Linked DNA regions of Homo sapiens: region 2 is linked to region 1. A link means that fine-mapping ties the variant in region 1 to the expression of a gene that starts in the linked region. Tissue or cell type: whole blood. Region 1 holds a variant in brackets; the other region holds the start of a gene. All regions are shown on one strand. Distances are between the middles of the regions.

Region 1 (8,101 bases):
GTCAACTTCCCCAAGCAGAGGACCAAGGGCACAGACCTCTCTTGGCCCTGTGGGGCAGCTGAGACCCTGGGCAAGCCACTTCTCCTTCTGTGCCTCAGTTTCCCCAACAGTGAAAAGGAGGTGGGGTAGACAGGTGATGGCATAGAGGCTTCTTTGTGCTCCTAAGTCCCTAGTCCCAGCAAAGGTCTTCTGGTTCTGCTGAGCCATGTGTGCAGCTGAGCCGCCGGCACCCACAGGTCAGAGGAAGCCCACAGACGAGCATGTGGCGCTGTTGGCCCTGAGGCACTGGGAGGACATCCCCCGCGCAGGCTGCCGCCTGGTGCCAGAGCATGTGGAGACGAGGCCGCTGCTCAACCCCGACAAGCCGGGCATCGAGCAGGTGACACTTGCATGGCCAAGACTGGGGTTCTTGGGTATTGGGGACCAGGGATCCCCAACCTGAGTCAGTAAAGGTAGAAGCCAGGCCTCACGCTGTCCGCTGCATTCCAGAAAGCCTGGCAGGCACCTTCCCACCAAGGCCCCTCAGGGTAACTTGAATGGCAAGGGTCTTTGCTTTGAGTGAGAATTACATCAGCTCAGGCAGAGACCTGGGTTGTCTCCCTCAGAAGCTGTGATTGGCTATTGGTGACATCATAGGAATTCCTGGCATCCAAAGATGGAAACTGATGAACTGGGTCCTTGACAGAACAAAGGTTAGGAGGGAGAGGAGAGCTGATCTTCCTGGGCAGAGGGAGAAGGCCCTGGGAGATCTGCCACAACCCTCTTCCTCAGGGCCGCCTGGAGCTGTGGGTGGACATGTTCCCCATGGACATGCCAGCCCCTGGGACGCCTCTGGACATCTCACCTCGGAAGCCCAAGAAGTGAGCGGCCTGGGGCCCAGCGCTACTCCCTTCCGGCCCACCCCACCCACTTCCCACCACGGCCCAACCCTTCCTGCGGGGGGCTCAGGTCCAGATGGCCTTGGCCAGTTGGCATCCCTGGGGCCTGGGTGTGGCCACTGGGCCTTATAGGGGAGAAACTGACCAACCAATCGATAGAGTTTAGGGCCTGCCCTGGAGAGTCCCCACGTGCTAAGGCAGGACAACGCCTTCCACCCTGCATCAGTGAGCGAGACAAGCCCCACACAGCACACTCCGGTGCATTGTATCTACACGGTCTACGCGCCCATACACATGCATCTCATGCACACACACACACACAGCATAGCACTCCCACGGACACCCACACACATGCCCACACTGACGCACTCCTTCACAACACACAGAACCCCTGGGAGCCGGCCCTGCGTCATCCTCACATCCAGGCTAGTGTGATGTTCCGCCAAGTTTTCTTTGGAGTGCCTGCCAGTGATGAATCCAGGAGTGAGTGCCTGGAAGAGGCAGGAGGTGGTAGAGTGAAAAGAACCCGGGTTTCCCATCCATAAAGCGGCAGGTTCAAGTCCAGCTGTCAGACAGTGACTGGATTCAGGGCCAGCTTCAGGGATGGAGGAAGCCACACAGGGTCCCACTCTTGTTTCCATGCTCCTATGTTGCCATCTTGAAATTCTTTATGACAAGTGACCCTGCATTTCCATTTGGCGCTGGCCCCAGCAAATCATGCAGCAAATTCTGCCAGGAATGTCCTGGAAACCTGAGGCCATGAGTCAGCTGTTCCAGGGCCTGTCATTAGGGGGCACCCAACTCACTGGGCCACTCTGGGCTCGCAGCCCTGTCTGCAATCCCAGGAGAGCCATGCTCAGATCAATTTTTAGTGAATGACTCAGCCTCACTCTTAATGATTGAAATGAACTACATCATTCATAATTACAATTAAACCTTGAGGGGAAAATCCTCTTTGGGGACAGGGACATACAGCTTCCATGGGCTTCCATTGCTGGCTACTGGGCTTAAATGCAGACTTCTCTTGGAACTAGCATCTGAGACAGAGGGTGGCTTCCTCCCCTCACCCCACCCCCACCGCCCACAGCCATGTGCCTGGTGGGCCTTCTCACTCATGCCTCTGCTCCCCCAACCCCAAACCACTCCTCCAGCCCCAGCCTGGCCCAGGCCCTGTGCTGACCCCAAGACCCCAGGGCTTCTCTCCGCCTGCCCCATCCCAGCCCTGGCACCCTGGCATAACCCCCACCTGGGGCTGCTAACCAGCCTTCTCTCCCTGGGCCCAGGTACGAGCTGCGGGTCATCATCTGGAACACAGATGAGGTGGTCTTGGAGGACGACGACTTCTTCACAGGGGAGAAGTCCAGTGACATCTTCGTGAGGGGGTGGGTGAGCAGTCCCTGCATGGGAGGGACTGAGCTGGGTGGGGCTTGCTTCCCGGGGGGCAGGAGAGGAGGCAGAGGGAAGGTGGCTGTGGGTGGGAGAGGCCCCACCAGCCTGGCTGCGGGTCTGGAGATGTGGCGCCCACAGGTGGCTGAAGGGCCAGCAGGAGGACAAGCAGGACACAGACGTCCACTACCACTCCCTCACTGGCGAGGGCAACTTCAACTGGCGCTACCTGTTCCCCTTCGACTACCTGGCGGCGGAGGAGAAGATCGTCATCTCCAAGAAGGAGTCCATGTTCTCCTGGGACGAGACCGAGTACAAGATCCCCGCGCGGCTCACCCTGCAGATCTGGGATGCGGACCACTTCTCCGCTGACGACTTCCTGGGTGCAGAGCAGGGCAGGGATGGGGGTTCAGGATCCAGAACTGAGAAGAGGCAGGGGCCGGGTTGGCGGGGACAGGGAGAGCCCTGCCTTGGGGGGACAAGGGGTCATTGCTTCCAGTCCATCAGAGCCAGGGGTGTCCGACGGGGTTCCGCCCCCAAGGACCCACCTAACCGTCCCTAGGCAGATGTTCTCAGTGTCATAACCAGGCTGACAACAAGCTTTGGACACACCAAGGAGGGGGCAGTCAGTGATGATGGGGGAGGGGAGAGGCTCCCTAAGGGAGTCGGGAAACCTCCCTGGGCCTCAGGTTGCTTCTCTGTAAAGCAGGGATTCTCCCTAAAACTCTAATCTGCATCTGCAAAAGCTTGTGGGATTAGCAGGACTTTGACAGAATGGATGCATGGCAGGGAGTGGCAGGGGAGACCCCAGGAGAGACCCTCTGGGGTGAAAGAAGGACCTGAGTAAAGCATGGGGGCTGGGGCTGCCTAGCAAGCCCACGAGGATGCCTGCATTGAGGCCAGTTGCTGGGAGTGAGGCAGGAGGATGAGATGTGGGCTCAGGGAGGTCTGCACTCAGCAAACAAGGGGCCGAGGAGCCCAGACCCCCACCCCCACCCCGCCCCACCCCAGCCCTGTTCACTCTGAGCTGACACTGAGGTTGCCACAGGGGCCATCGAGCTGGACCTGAACCGGTTCCCGCGGGGCGCAAAGACAGCCAAGCAGTGCACCATGGAGATGGCCACCGGGGAGGTGGACGTGCCCCTCGTGTCCATCTTCAAGCAAAAGCGCGTCAAAGGCTGGTGGCCCCTCCTGGCCCGCAATGAGAACGATGAGTTTGAGCTCACGGTGCGCACCCCTTCCTGCTCGGGCAGTAGGCAGGGCTGGGACTGGCTGGGGTGCCAAGGGCCCAGCACGCAGCCTGGACGCTGGGACCTGTCTGTCCTCTGCAGGGCAAGGTGGAGGCTGAGCTGCATTTACTGACAGCAGAGGAGGCAGAGAAGAACCCAGTGGGCCTGGCCCGCAATGAACCTGACCCCCTAGAGAAACCCAAGTGAGTGCCCTGCCGGCCCAGCCCCTCCCCACTCTGGCTCTTGGAGGCGCTGGAACAGGAAGGAGACGATCCCCAGACACCCCATCTCTTCCTGGGCCACAGCCTCATTACAGGGGAGCCTCCTCCCTGCCCTCTGCCAACCCTGAATCCCACAACGTCCCTTTGAACCAGAGGATGGGCTAGGAATACTGGAGAGCAGGACCTTCCCTGGGAAAGGCCCCATCTAGCGGAGAGAAACTATGCTCTTCCCTTCCTAGCTTTTGCAGAAGAGCCAGCTCCAGTGGTGGCCTCTGGGGCCATGGCCAGCCTTGATGGCCAGAGGGGTGCCTAGAACTGCACACACAGCCCAGGACAGCTTCCCTCTTGGTCTTGGCCCCTCGCCACACCCAATCCCTTCTCCTCCCTGTCCCTCCTCTGCGCTCTCTACCCTTCATACTCCAGCCGGCCCGACACGAGCTTCATCTGGTTCCTGAACCCTCTCAAGTCGGCTCGCTACTTCTTGTGGCACACGTATCGCTGGCTGCTCCTCAAACTGTTGCTGCTCCTGCTGCTGCTCCTCCTCCTCGCCCTGTTCCTCTACTCTGTGCCTGGCTACCTGGTCAAGAAAATCCTCGGGGCCTGAGCCCAGTGGCCTCCTGGGTCTGATATTTCTTACTTCTTCCTCTGGACCAAGGGCTAGGCAGGCGCGTGCACACACACACATATACACGCACACATCCACAAACACAAATATGCATACATGTGCACACAAACACACACAAGCATGTATGCACACATGTGCCACGCACAAGTGCATACACATGCACTCAAGCACACACAGGCACACACTTAAGCCCACACAAACATGCACAGCAACTTTCAAGCTTTCATGACAGAATAGACTCTCAGAACTAGAAATGACTATTTTACACTTTTCCACATTAAGCCAAAGAGGTGAAGTAGCTTGCTCAAGGTTACCCAGCAAATTAGGGTAGAGCCGGGACTCAAGCCAAGGTTTCCAAATTTCCAATCCTGTGTTCTTTGCACACCACCTCTGCTCCCAGCCATGTTTCTCCCAGACTGTAACCCAATTTTTTTTTTTTTTTTTTTTTT[TTG/G]GAGACAGAGTCTCGCTCTGTCGCCCAGGCTAGAGTGCAGTGGCACAATCTTGGCTCACTGCCAGCTCCGCCTCCCGGGTTCACGCCATTCTCCTGCCTCAGCCTCCTGAGTAGCTGGGACTACAGGCACCCGCCACCACGCCTGGATAATTTTTTGTATTTTTAGTAGAGACGGGGTTTCACTGTGTTAGCCAGGATGGTCTCGATCTCCTGACCTCGTGATCCGCCCATCTCGGCCTCCCAAAGTGCTGGGATTACAGGCGTGAGCCACCGCGCCCAGCCGACTCTAACCCAATTTCATTGGCAGAAAGAAGCTGAGCTATGGACAGGGAAAAGGGAAGGGTGTGGCCAGGGTTAGCCAACAGGTCTGGAAATGGCTCTCACCCGTGTGTGACCTCCCAGTCCAGGGCTGTTGTTTTCTGCCCTTCAGGATAATAATTCCATTCAACTCAAACATTTCATAGCCACCATGGCCTGAACACCCAACTGCAGGTGCTCAGAGCTCCCCAGGCACTGGCTCACTGTGCCATTGCGCCAAACCCAGGAGGTAGGTACTGCTTGTAACCCCATTTTATACATGAAGAAACCGAGGTTGATAGAGGTGCCTCACTTGCCTGTGAAAACCATTCAAAACCAGGTGCCCTGCACCCAAGCCCCGGCTCTGTGTCCCCACCAATACTGAGCTCAGCTCTGGGGCTGCACGCCATGTCCTCTGGGAGGCAGTAGTTTGAAAATGCATATGCAGTACTTTCACTTGTATCTTGACATTTTACAAAACCTATTGTTTTTATAACACAAACGACAGATAGTGAGGCTGGCCAGGTGCTTCTCGGCTGGGAGGCTCTACAGAAGGTGGAGTGGGTCTTCATCCTGAGAGTGGGCAGGTCGGTGAGGGCAGCTTGCACCCCACAGGGGCTGCTCAGACCCTCAGCAGGGCCCGGTGGGAACAGCCATTTATGTCCATCAGAAAGGAAGAGGTTGTGAAGCACCAGTCTTACCAAGGACGTGGGGCAGCACATAGAACGAGCTAACCGCAGGAGCTTCCTAACGATGAGAACTGCCTGCAGGGCCAAGGCTGCCCCATGCTGCAAGTAGCTCCCATCTAGGCCTTAGGAGGAGATTCGGGCCCCAAAGGTGCTGCAGGGAGGATAGAGTTTTGTAAGCAGCAAGTCGGGTACTTAGAAATGGGTTTAAACCCTGGCTCCAGCATTCACTGCTTTTGGGGCTGGGGCCATGGCAGGGCTTTTGGGGGTCCAGAAGGACAGAGGATGGGGTGCACTGGGAGGCAGCTCCTGCCCACTGGCTGACCGGCTCCTCTCTTCCACTTCCCAGCCGGCCCGACACGGCCTTCGTCTGGTTCCTCAACCCTCTCAAGTCCATCAAGTACCTCATCTGCACCCGGTACAAGTGGCTCATCATCAAGATCGTGCTGGCGCTGTTGGGGCTGCTCATGTTGGGGCTCTTCCTCTACAGCCTCCCTGGCTACATGGTCAAAAAGCTCCTTGGGGCATGAAGGCCGCCAGCTCCCGCCAGCCGCTCCCCAGCCCTGCCGCATTTCCTTTCAGTGGCTTGGACTCTTTCCCATCTCCCCTGGGGAGCCTGAGGAGCCCAGCGTCCACTCTTCATGCCTTGGGCCGAGCCTGCCTCCTGCTTGCGGGGGCCGCCTGTCCTCACTGCCCCAGGCTGCGGCTTGCCCAGTCCCGCCCCTCTGACCCCTGCCTGTGGGCTGGGGAGCCTTGGATGGGGTGGGGACCTGGAATGGGTCTCTCTTGCCCCACCTGGCTGAGGCGCCACCCTTCTTCAGGCCCAGGCTCCAGAGGAAGACTCCTGAAACCCTCCCCAGGTCTTCCAAGTACAGGATTGAAGCTTTAGTGAAATTAACCAAGGACCATGGGTCAGTGCCCAGGGCTTTAAAAAGAATGAACGAGCAAAAGGTATCCCCGCCGTGACCCCTGCAGATAGCACCGGTCTTTGATCCGCAGCAGGGGCCAGACCCTGCCCACAAGTCCCAGCGCGGCTGCTTCTGCCACTGCTGGGCTCCACTTGGCTCCTCTCACTTCCCAGGGGGTCGCCTGTCCTGCCTGTGGGTTTCCATGGCTTCCCAGAGCTCCCTCTGCCCCAGCCAGCGCCTCCAGGCCCAGCTGAGGAGCTGTGAGAAGCAGCAGAGGGGACTCCCCATCCCGGGCACACCCTGTCCTCCCACCCCTGCCCCCTTGCCCTTCCAGCCCTTTCAGCTGCAGCTGGGAGCTGGCCCGTCAAGTGCTGCCCCTGCCTGTGTCTGGGTTTCTGTTGGCTGTTTTTCTTTTCTTGAGTGGTGATTTTTCTCTAAATAAAAGAAGTCAAGCACTGAGCTGACAGGTCTGCACTGGTCAAGCTGAGAGGAGCAGCCGCAGGTGCGGGGCAGAGGCAGCAGTTCTCTAGGCTGGCAGATTCAGTACCAGCAGGGCTCCCATGGCCTTTCCCCTTCAAGTGGCCTCTGGTGGCCCAGGGTTCAAGGCAGGCCTCAGGCACAGGGCTGCCCACCCAGGCTGCCCACAGGAGGAGTCTTACACCATAGCCCAAAGGGCACACCAGCCTGGGCCCAGGGGCCCCCAAAGCACCGAAAGAATCCTTCAGGTCTGGGGCCAGTCTGAAGGCTTAAGGCCCCACAAGGGCCCAAAAGCTCTAGCCTCCACCCACAGAAACCAGTTCCCCTGAAAGCAAGAAAGGAGCCCCACGCTACTGGCCTCGGCCTCTGACTCACACCACTATCTGAGCCTGGGGCAAAGTCCCCTCATGACACAGAGGTAGGGGCAAGGGCCTGGTCTTGCTAGACCTGACCTCTTTAAAGAGATTCAGCCACAACTTTAAAAGGCTTTAATCATAATGCAGGACACAGGTAACTCCTCTGGCTCCTTATTTCGACAGGCTATAAAGACAGCCCTGGAAAATCCAGAGAGCAGGCCCAGGTGCGGCCCAGTGGGTGATATGAGCTGGCTCCGGCACAGACACCAGCATCAGGCCAGCCCTAACACATCAGCCTTTGGCGGTCCAGCTCATTTTGTGGGTACCCGCAACACCTGAGTGGGAGGAACTTGCAGTTCAGAGTTGATCTGGAAAAGAAAGGGTGAAAGTCGTTACATTTTTCCCAGGGCCCTCCTTCTTTGCCACCCTTGCGAGCCACGCTGGCTCTCCCATGGGCCTCCAAAGCCCTGCACGCATCTCCTCTCCAAAGCTGAGAGATGCTGAACACCCACAGACTGCCTCCCTGCAGGAGACACGCCTGAGCCTTCTTGCTCAGCTTCTGCTCCAGCTGTGACCTCTGGTAGCGT
Region 2 (8,101 bases), 98 kb before region 1:
GGTCACGCACGAAGCAGCTGCCCCACCGTGGCTCAGGCCCAGAAACCTGAGTGGCCTTAGGGTCCCCAGGAGCTATGTCTCTCCAAGGCTTCCCCTGCACCCCAGCTCCATGGGAGTTCCAGGAAGGGGCTCTGTAGTGGGCCGCGCTGGGCGAGGTTGCCTAGGACGCTGTGTGTAATTGTGTGTGTGCGTGCGTGCGTGCATGTGTGCGTGTGTGTGTGCGCGCCTTGCGAAGAGGAGCATTTTTCATTTTTCTTCTTAATCTCTAGCTGATGGCTTCCTTCTCACCTCATCATACCTGTAAACTACTCCACAAGAGGCAAAAAGAAAATCATAGAACGTCTGGGTGTGTGATTTACATTTGTCCCCAATGCTGCCGTTCATTTTGGGGATGGCATCCGCAGGGGTAGCGCTTGCCCCAGAGAGCAGGCCTGCTGAAGGCCCACCCCCTGTGTAATCCTCCCTGTGACTGCTTCAGCCTCCACATTTGAGTTTCTCCAGGGACCCTTACACCAGCCTTGGTGCCTAGGGCAGGCACAGGGCCTTCGGCTTTTCCATAAGGGGTGAGGGTATGGGGACAGCTTCCACGGTGCCAGGCTCTTGGTGACTCGGGTGGAGGCCCTGCCACCCCAGCTCCCTCTGCAGCAGTCCTGGTGTCATGAAGAAGCCTGGCAGTTCCCACTTTGTCTCCAGGTCTTGCTTCTTCCCTTCAGATGCCGGATGGAGAGCAGTGCTCCCCTCGCACTTCGGTTCTGTAAATGGCAGTGGATGAAGACCGCAGACGCTACTGGGTTCACAGAATGTGGCTGCCACCAGCATTCTCCAAAGACTTCCCCTGGCAAATGCCAATGAAATGAAGGGGAGCCACAGGCTTCCCAGAGGCTCAGGAAGCAGAAACACTGAGGCCTGGTTGGAAAGAGAGCTGTAGGCAAAGGAACGGCTGCAAACAAACTGGGTGGAAGGAAAATCCATCCATCCTTCAGAATGCAGTCATGTCTGTATTTTTCTAAATTCTCATTGGGGAACATGTTCTACAATAAGGAAAACATGAGTCAAAGACCCCCAGCCCTGGTGAGGTTGACCGCCTACTTCCTCCCCCATTCAGGGCTGCCCAGCCAGTCCTGCTGGTAAACCCACCACCCTGCCTTCCACCTGCCTGTGTTCTAGTCCATCTGTCTCGTCTGATTGGGATCCTGTGCCATCCATATCATATTCATCCCTGAATCTCAGCACCTGGCTCTGGAAAGAATTCAGTAAATGTTCATTACATAAATTATATACTCAGTTACCAAAATGGGTAACAGAAGAATGGAAATTAAAAAGTGGGTTCTGGCTGGGAACGGTGGCTCATGCCTGTAATCCCAGCATTTTGGAAGGCCGAGGCAGGCGGATCACTTGAGGTCAGCAGTTTGAGACCAGCCTAGCCAACATGGTGAAACCCCATCTCTACTAAAAATACAAACATTAGCTGGGCATGGTAGCACATGCTTATAGTCTGACCTATTTGGGAGGCTGAGGCAGGAGAATCGCTTGAACCCGGGAGGCAGAGGTTGCAGTGAGCCTAGATCACTCCACTGCCCTCCAGCCTGGGTGACAGAGTGAGACTCTCTCTCAAAAAAAAAAAAAAAAAAAGAGTGGGATCTGTCTCTTAGGTTTTCAGAAAGGCCAGCTGACTCCATTGAGAGCTGCTGAGTGGAATTGCTACCATTTTATGGATGTGGAAAGTGAGATTCAGCATAGATCAATGCCTTGGCTAGGGCAGGATCATGGGCTTTTTCCTAAAGATGCACAGGGTCTATAAGAGGCCTCATGAAATTCACTCCTTTCAGGGGAGGACCTCCAGAGAACCAAGGAAGAAGATATTTTCTGTTGTTGTTGTTGTACCTTGTAGTCACCAAGCCTTAAAAACACAGATCACCTGATGACCTCATGGATGGAAAATGCTAGTGAATTTAGGTGTTTTTTTTTTTAAGACATTAAACTTATCTAGCTTTTGAAAATTTAGCATTCATACTTGTATTCAATAAACAGAATACTCTAAGACATTTTTAAATTCAATATGATTAGATAAATGTGAGAAAGGTAAGCAAGAATTGGTTAGGAAAAAGTGCAAAGGAAAAAAACGTAAGTAGAAAAAGAAAAATAGGGCACAGTAGCAAGGAAATATCTAGAAGGAGGAAAGAAGGCTCTTGGGACATACTGTAGGTTATTTGGAATGCAGAATTCAAAAGAAGTAACCTCTTGTTACCATGCTGTGAAAAATTAGTATTTCTCTTTTTAACCTTTAGACTCTGTTTCAGGTAGATCCCTGAGCTCACTCTTTTATCCTTTCAACAGTAATTGGGCATCCTACGGTGCACAGGATACCATGTGGGGCTCTGGGGTAGAGGGATGCTGTGCTCCAGGGCCCTCCTGAGGTCAGGAGGGGAAAAGGCAAGGGAAGCAGCCCCAGGACTCAGTAAGATGAGAGGAGGCAGGAGCAGCACAGAGGAGGACCCCAACCCAGCTGGGGTGCGGGTACAGAGGCACCTCCAGGAGCAGGCACTCAAGCTGAGTCCAGGGTGGGGTGGAGGGCATTCCACCAAGAATGAATAGCAAGAACAAGGCTGCAGATGACCCTGCACAGATTCCAGCATCAGGGATTCTGGCCCCCAGCGTCCCTTTCCTTGGTGTATGCTGCTGGAAGACAGGAGGGGGCAGTTCTCTTTTGGTCCTTAGAAATTTCCCTATAGACATCCCTTCTCCTGCCCCTAGCAGCTTATAACAGCAGAAGGCCATTCAATTCTGCTCCTCTGGCTGGAAAGCAAACATCAGCCTGGCTTACCTTCGCTAGCCTGCCTGACCCCCAGCCTTGGGGTGGGGCTAGGTTAGTGCCCTGGATCCTTAAACATGGCCCCTGGTAGCACATAAGCCTCTGCTGCCTCCACAACCAGCCATCTCCATCATGCATGGCCTGGTCCTGAGCCTCCCCTCAGGCAGCAGCCCCAGCCTCTCTGCTTCCTGAGATTCAGAAACAGGGATCCCAGGGCAGGGCTCAGGGCCCAGCCTCTTGGGGGCACAGTCTCCAGCAGGGAAGAGGTGGGCGTAGGTGGACAAATACATTCCCTTCTTCTTGTAGTGTGCCCCTGTGGGTGGGAGTGCCCCCCGCCCCACATCCACCCTACCTATGCTCATGCCCACTCCTCTGTGCCCACTACTGGTGGCAGGGCTTGCTTAGCAGGGAAGCAGCAGAGCCCTGCAGAGGGGTGGGCAGAGCCTCCCTTCCAGGAGCTGGGAGAAGACACCTGAAGCTGGACAGAGCTTTATCTGGGAGCCGGCGGCTGCTGAATAATGAATTCCAACTCTGCCGCACTCCCAGGCTGCACATTGGGTGCACACACACACACACACACACGCACACACCGATACACACACGCTGGGCTGACAACTTGGAGGGGCGGGGGCTGTGAGGCTCTGTGAGTCGCTGCAGGAGCAGCTTAGCTCGGCTTGGTTGCCTTGGTCTCTGTGGGCAGCATCGGAGGGGGGTCGGGAGGAGGAGGAGGAGGCAGCGGCAGAGAAGAGAGAGGCGTGTGAGCCGTGCTCCACCGGCTAGCTCCTTCCCGCTGCTCCTGCCTGGCAGTGCCAGGCAGCCCACACCAGCATGGCCTTGCTCATCCACCTCAAGACAGTCTCGGAGCTGCGGGGCAGGGGCGACCGGATCGCCAAAGTGACTTTCCGAGGTAGGGAAGCCGCTGTCTCAGAGGGACGCCAGCTCTGAGAGCTGGACCAGCCCATGCTCTGGAGGTGGCCGGGGATAGGACAGGGCTGGGAGGATGGGTGGGAAAAGTTCTAGCAGGGGCTGGGGCGACGAGCCTTTTCACAGGTAGTCATCTGCCTGGGACTGACTGGCCATTGTGATTTCTGGAAAATCAGGGTCCCCTGTTCTTCCATGCCTGTGTCTCCTTGTGCTTGCCAACATGCCAGTTCCCCGGGCAGGGCACAGAGCCCTCTGCCTGGGGAGGCAGAAGTGAGGACCACATCCCTGAGCTCAGGGAGACCCAGGACCCCCTCCTTCTCTCTCTCTCCCTCTCCTGCAGGTTGATTTCCTTGAGCACAGGGTGGGGGCCGGGTATGGAGCCTGGGGCACCCAGGGTGACTGGGAGAAACCAGGCAGCCAGTAGCTCCCTGGGCCCCAGAGTGATGGGGGACACTGTTGGCTTCTTTTAGATCTATTCATGGGCGGGAACCCCGGGAGCCCCTCGCCTCTCTTCTGTCTGGTCTTTTCTCATCCTTTTCACTCCTGTATTCAGCGACCATTTATTATGATCTACTGTGTCCCAAGGATAGGGGTAGAAACACAGAGCTGAGCACAACCCAGCCCCAGCCCCAAGGAGCCTGCATCTGTTGGGCAGGCGTGGAACAAGCAGGACAGGTATGTGAGACAGAAGGTGGGGGTGCAGCATGCAAGCTACAGAAGCAGCACCCTCACCCAGGCTGGTGACCGGTGGTCAGGGAAGGCTTCCCGGAGGAAGTAACACTCAGCTAATACCCGAAGGACCAGCGGGTGGGAGCTAGGAGAGGAGGTAAGGACTGAGGAGGCAGAGGAAACAGTGTGCCCAGAGCTGAGAGAGGAGCTGAAACTCTGGAACTGAAAGAGGTTCCATGTGTCTACAGCTCAGAGAGGGTGCAGGAGCGGAGGCCAGAGAGCCAAGCAGGGCAAGGAGGCGAGGCTGGACCTGACCCCGGGGACAGCGGAGCCCCTGAGCATTTTAAGTGGGGAAAGGCAGGGCCAGGCTGACTCTGTCCTTCACCACCCACCTCTGCCTCTCCATGTGGTTGCTGCCCAGCCCTGAGGGTTGGGGGTACTTCTCACTAGACATGGCCCCTTCTCCCGAGAGAGGGGTCTGAGAGTGGGATGGGGACGAGGTGGTGAGAAGGGGGCAGAGAGGACCCCCCTATACTAAAGAGCAAAGTGAGCCTTGGGGCCCAGGCTGGACACAGTGTCTGCACCTCTGTTGGAAGGGATGGGAGAGACCATTGGCAGAACATTCCAGCAAGAGCCCTGGGGCACCCACATCACCTACCCAGAGGCCCTGGGATGCCCACATTGCAGCTTGTGTTCATAGGGACAGGCAGGGGTGGAGGTGATGGCAGTGGCCCTGCCGGCAGGCGGAGGTTAGGCAGGAGGGAGAGGGAGGTGTGGGCTGGGCTGCCTTTTGCCTCCCACCCCAACCCACTGACTGCTTTCTCTGCAGCACCCTGGATCTCCCTCTGTGTGCCACCTGCAGGCTCATGCTGGCTTTAGAAAAAGCAAATGTGTCCTTTCATCTGTGAAATGTGGCCCTGAGCTCCACGGGCAGCATAGTGTGGGGCGGTTAAGCTACAGGTTGCCATCCTGCTGCAGCTGTGCTGGAACGGTCCAGGCTGCACCGGACAGGCCCACTTGCAGGCCGAGAAACCAAGGTTCAGGGGTAGAACACTGCGCGTGGCATTCACGGAGGAGCTGAGGCACGGTGGTCCCAGCTCTCAGGACCTCATCCTGAGTACTCAATCTTGCAAGCTCTTTATCTGCTCCTGGGCCACCTGGGGGCCAGCACCTTGTCTGACACCCATCTTCTCCTTGGAGCAGTGAAGGGCTGGGCCTTTAGCCTCACTGACCACACAGGAATTAGTTTATTTGCAACCCTTGCTCTCTGGACTGAGTGGAGAAATCGCTTCCAAGCTCCACATTGGCAGGAGGTGGCCATGGGCAGAGCTCCTGGGGAAGGGGGCTGGGCAGCAGGAATAGGCAGATGACAAGCAGTTTCCAGAAAGTACCTTTATTACAACGAAAGATGCCTCAGCCGCTCACCTGTGTCATCTAGCAGTTCACAGTTGTAGGCGCCCCAAAAGACCAACACTGACCACAATTCAGAGGGAATGGACCCGCTCTACAATGTTCCTTAGCATCTCCCAGCACATGCAACCACTGGGGGCCAAGCAAGTCCTCTGCAGGGGGAAACAAGAAACTGGTAAACACGCAGAGGGAGACACTGGCCCCAGGCTCCCCAAGGCTTTTGAGTGAAAGTCAATGCCGGGGGAGGTGGTGAGGGAGCCCTTGGTGAGCTGTGCCCATTGGCAGTGGCCCTAGGTAGGCCAGAGCAGCTGGTTGAAATATGGCTTGACCTTCTGTGCTGTGCCATCCAAGACACTAAGGAAAGAGCCCTCCTGGGCTATTGTGGAAAAAGTTCTGGATATGGAGTCAGAAGCCCTAGATCCTACCTGGGTTCTGCCACTCACCCTCAGTTTCCTCATCTGTAAAATGGGCATGATAATAACACTCACTTCACTAGATTGCTTCAGGGAAACCATAGGTATGGAAGAGTTTGTGGGAAGAGTATTCAAATGGTCGATGTGTTTGTGAGGCAGCCATTCCCATTCTCCTTGGGAGCAGCTGCTGGCCCCTGAGGTATCTTCTCTCCAGACCAGCAGAGGGCCCCATGTGAGATATAAAGGGAAGAGGAGAGCACGTCTAAGGGGTTCCAGTCTGCCAGGAGAAGGCAGAGAGCCTGGACTCTGCTCTGTAGGAGCCTCTGCTGAGATGTTCCGCAGGAACCCAGGCAGGCAGACCCCCGAGACTCCTGTTCTCATCTGGCTGGGTGTGCACCAGCTTTGCCCGTGGCCACCTCTTTTCCCACTGCCCTCAGGCCAGTCGGCCCCTCGGTCAGTGCTCCCAGCCAGTTCTGTATCTAGCTCTTAGTTCTTACTGCCCCTGGCTGCTCCTAAGCTGGTGCTGCCCTGTTCATGCATTTCCTGAACATGCTAATATTTGTGCACAGGCCTGGGACCCTGAGGTGAAGGGGCCAGCCTGGCCCTCCAGGAGTCACAATCCCATTGGGTCAGACAGGAGATAGGGAGTCCTGGGCGAATCTCTATTGTGCCTGCAGGCCACAGGGCTCAGCTGGGTTTCTCATTAACAAAATGGAGACAGTGGTCCTCATTTAGCTCAGAGGCCTGCAGTTCCCAGGAGTAATCAAGAGTGGGCTATCTAAGAAGGAGCCATCTTGACCACAGGTTGCTACTCAAAGAGAGGAAGTATTAGCTTCAGGTATTTCCTTTATCAACTCCTGAGATAGTTCCCTACATCAATCACAGAGCCACAGAACGCAGGGTGTGAAGGGTCCCGAAGTTCTTCTAGTCCAACCTTCTGTCCAGTGCTGAGCACCAAGGCTGGGGGACCTGGACTGTAAGGGAACCAAGTGACAGACAGTCCAGGGCCAACCCTGATGTCTCCCTTCTCTTTCTATCCCCTGAGCCTTCTTGCCAAGACATGAGGTTTGGGGATTTTCTGTGTGAGATAAGAACATCTAAAGGCTGGATCTGGCTTCCACATAATTCACTGTGGCTGGAAATTGGCACAAAGGTTTGCAGGGCATCCCCCTCCACCTTTTCATTCTTACTCTTCTTCCCACCCTCCCCCTGATTCCCACCCTGCTATGTTCCCACTACATTCAACTTCCAGCCATTCCCAAAAGATACCACACCCTTTTACACCTCCAAACTTTGAGACATCGATCATATTTCTTCTGCCTGGAATGACCACCCTCCACCTTGAGAACGCCCATTAATTCTGCTCATCCTTCAAGGCCCAGCTCATATGCTACCTCCTCCATGAAGGAGTAGTACTTTGCACACAAAGTACTCCTCTAGCAGTACTTTGCACACATTCTTCCTACTGCTCTGCCAAGGTACATTGCATTTCAGAAACTGGCCACACCTCTGCATGCTGCCCAAGCTTTTGAGCATCTTCAGGACAGACATCAGACATGGTTTCTGTCTTTGAGGGATTCACTGTGTCATGGGTTTGAGTTCTTCCACTGTGGCACTGTCACTCTTTGGCTCCATTTCCCCAACTGTGAGCTCTCACCCCAGAACTTTCTATCCAAGGAGGATCAAGGGACTGGAAGAGGCCTCAAGGGCCAAGAACCAAGAACCTTGGCTCTTACTCCTTCCATCAACTTCCCTAACCCAGAGAATCTTCTAGGGCTCCAGAGGGGCCTAACGATTTTTTTTTTTTTTTTTTTTTTTGAGTCTCGCTCTGTCGCCAGGCTGGAGTGCAGTGCAGTGCGATCTCGGCTCACTG

What was found. PIP is the estimated chance that this variant, and not a neighbour inherited with it, causes the effect.
Region 2: it holds the start of OTOF, and the variant in region 1 is fine-mapped to the expression of OTOF in whole blood (INTERVAL, PIP 0.98).

The regions. Positions count from the first base shown.
Region 1 is chr2:26,456,242-26,464,342 of GRCh38, reverse strand. DRC1 (dynein regulatory complex subunit 1) reads right to left here. Exons shown (of 17, transcript NM_145038.5): 17 at 7,632-7,882. The coding sequence ends at 7,826. OTOF (otoferlin) reads left to right here. Exons shown (of 47, transcript NM_194248.3): 40 at 237-379; 41 at 772-860; 42 at 2,162-2,260; 43 at 2,406-2,647; 44 at 3,313-3,491; 45 at 3,596-3,696; 46 at 4,138-4,335; 47 at 6,123-7,140. The coding sequence ends at 4,318. Among named protein-coding and RNA genes, the nearest start is that of DRC1, 58 kb to the right of the region's middle. RefSeq lists enhancers at 428-722, 292-1,491, 3,177-3,882, 5,571-6,140, 6,141-6,711. The variant TTG/G (reference allele first, on the strand shown) is at 4,789.
Region 2 is chr2:26,554,111-26,562,211 of GRCh38, reverse strand. It overlaps OTOF (otoferlin), which reads left to right and starts at 3,456. Exons shown (of 47, transcript NM_194248.3): 1 at 3,456-3,719. The coding sequence starts at 3,641. RefSeq lists enhancers at 2,509-3,301, 3,302-4,095.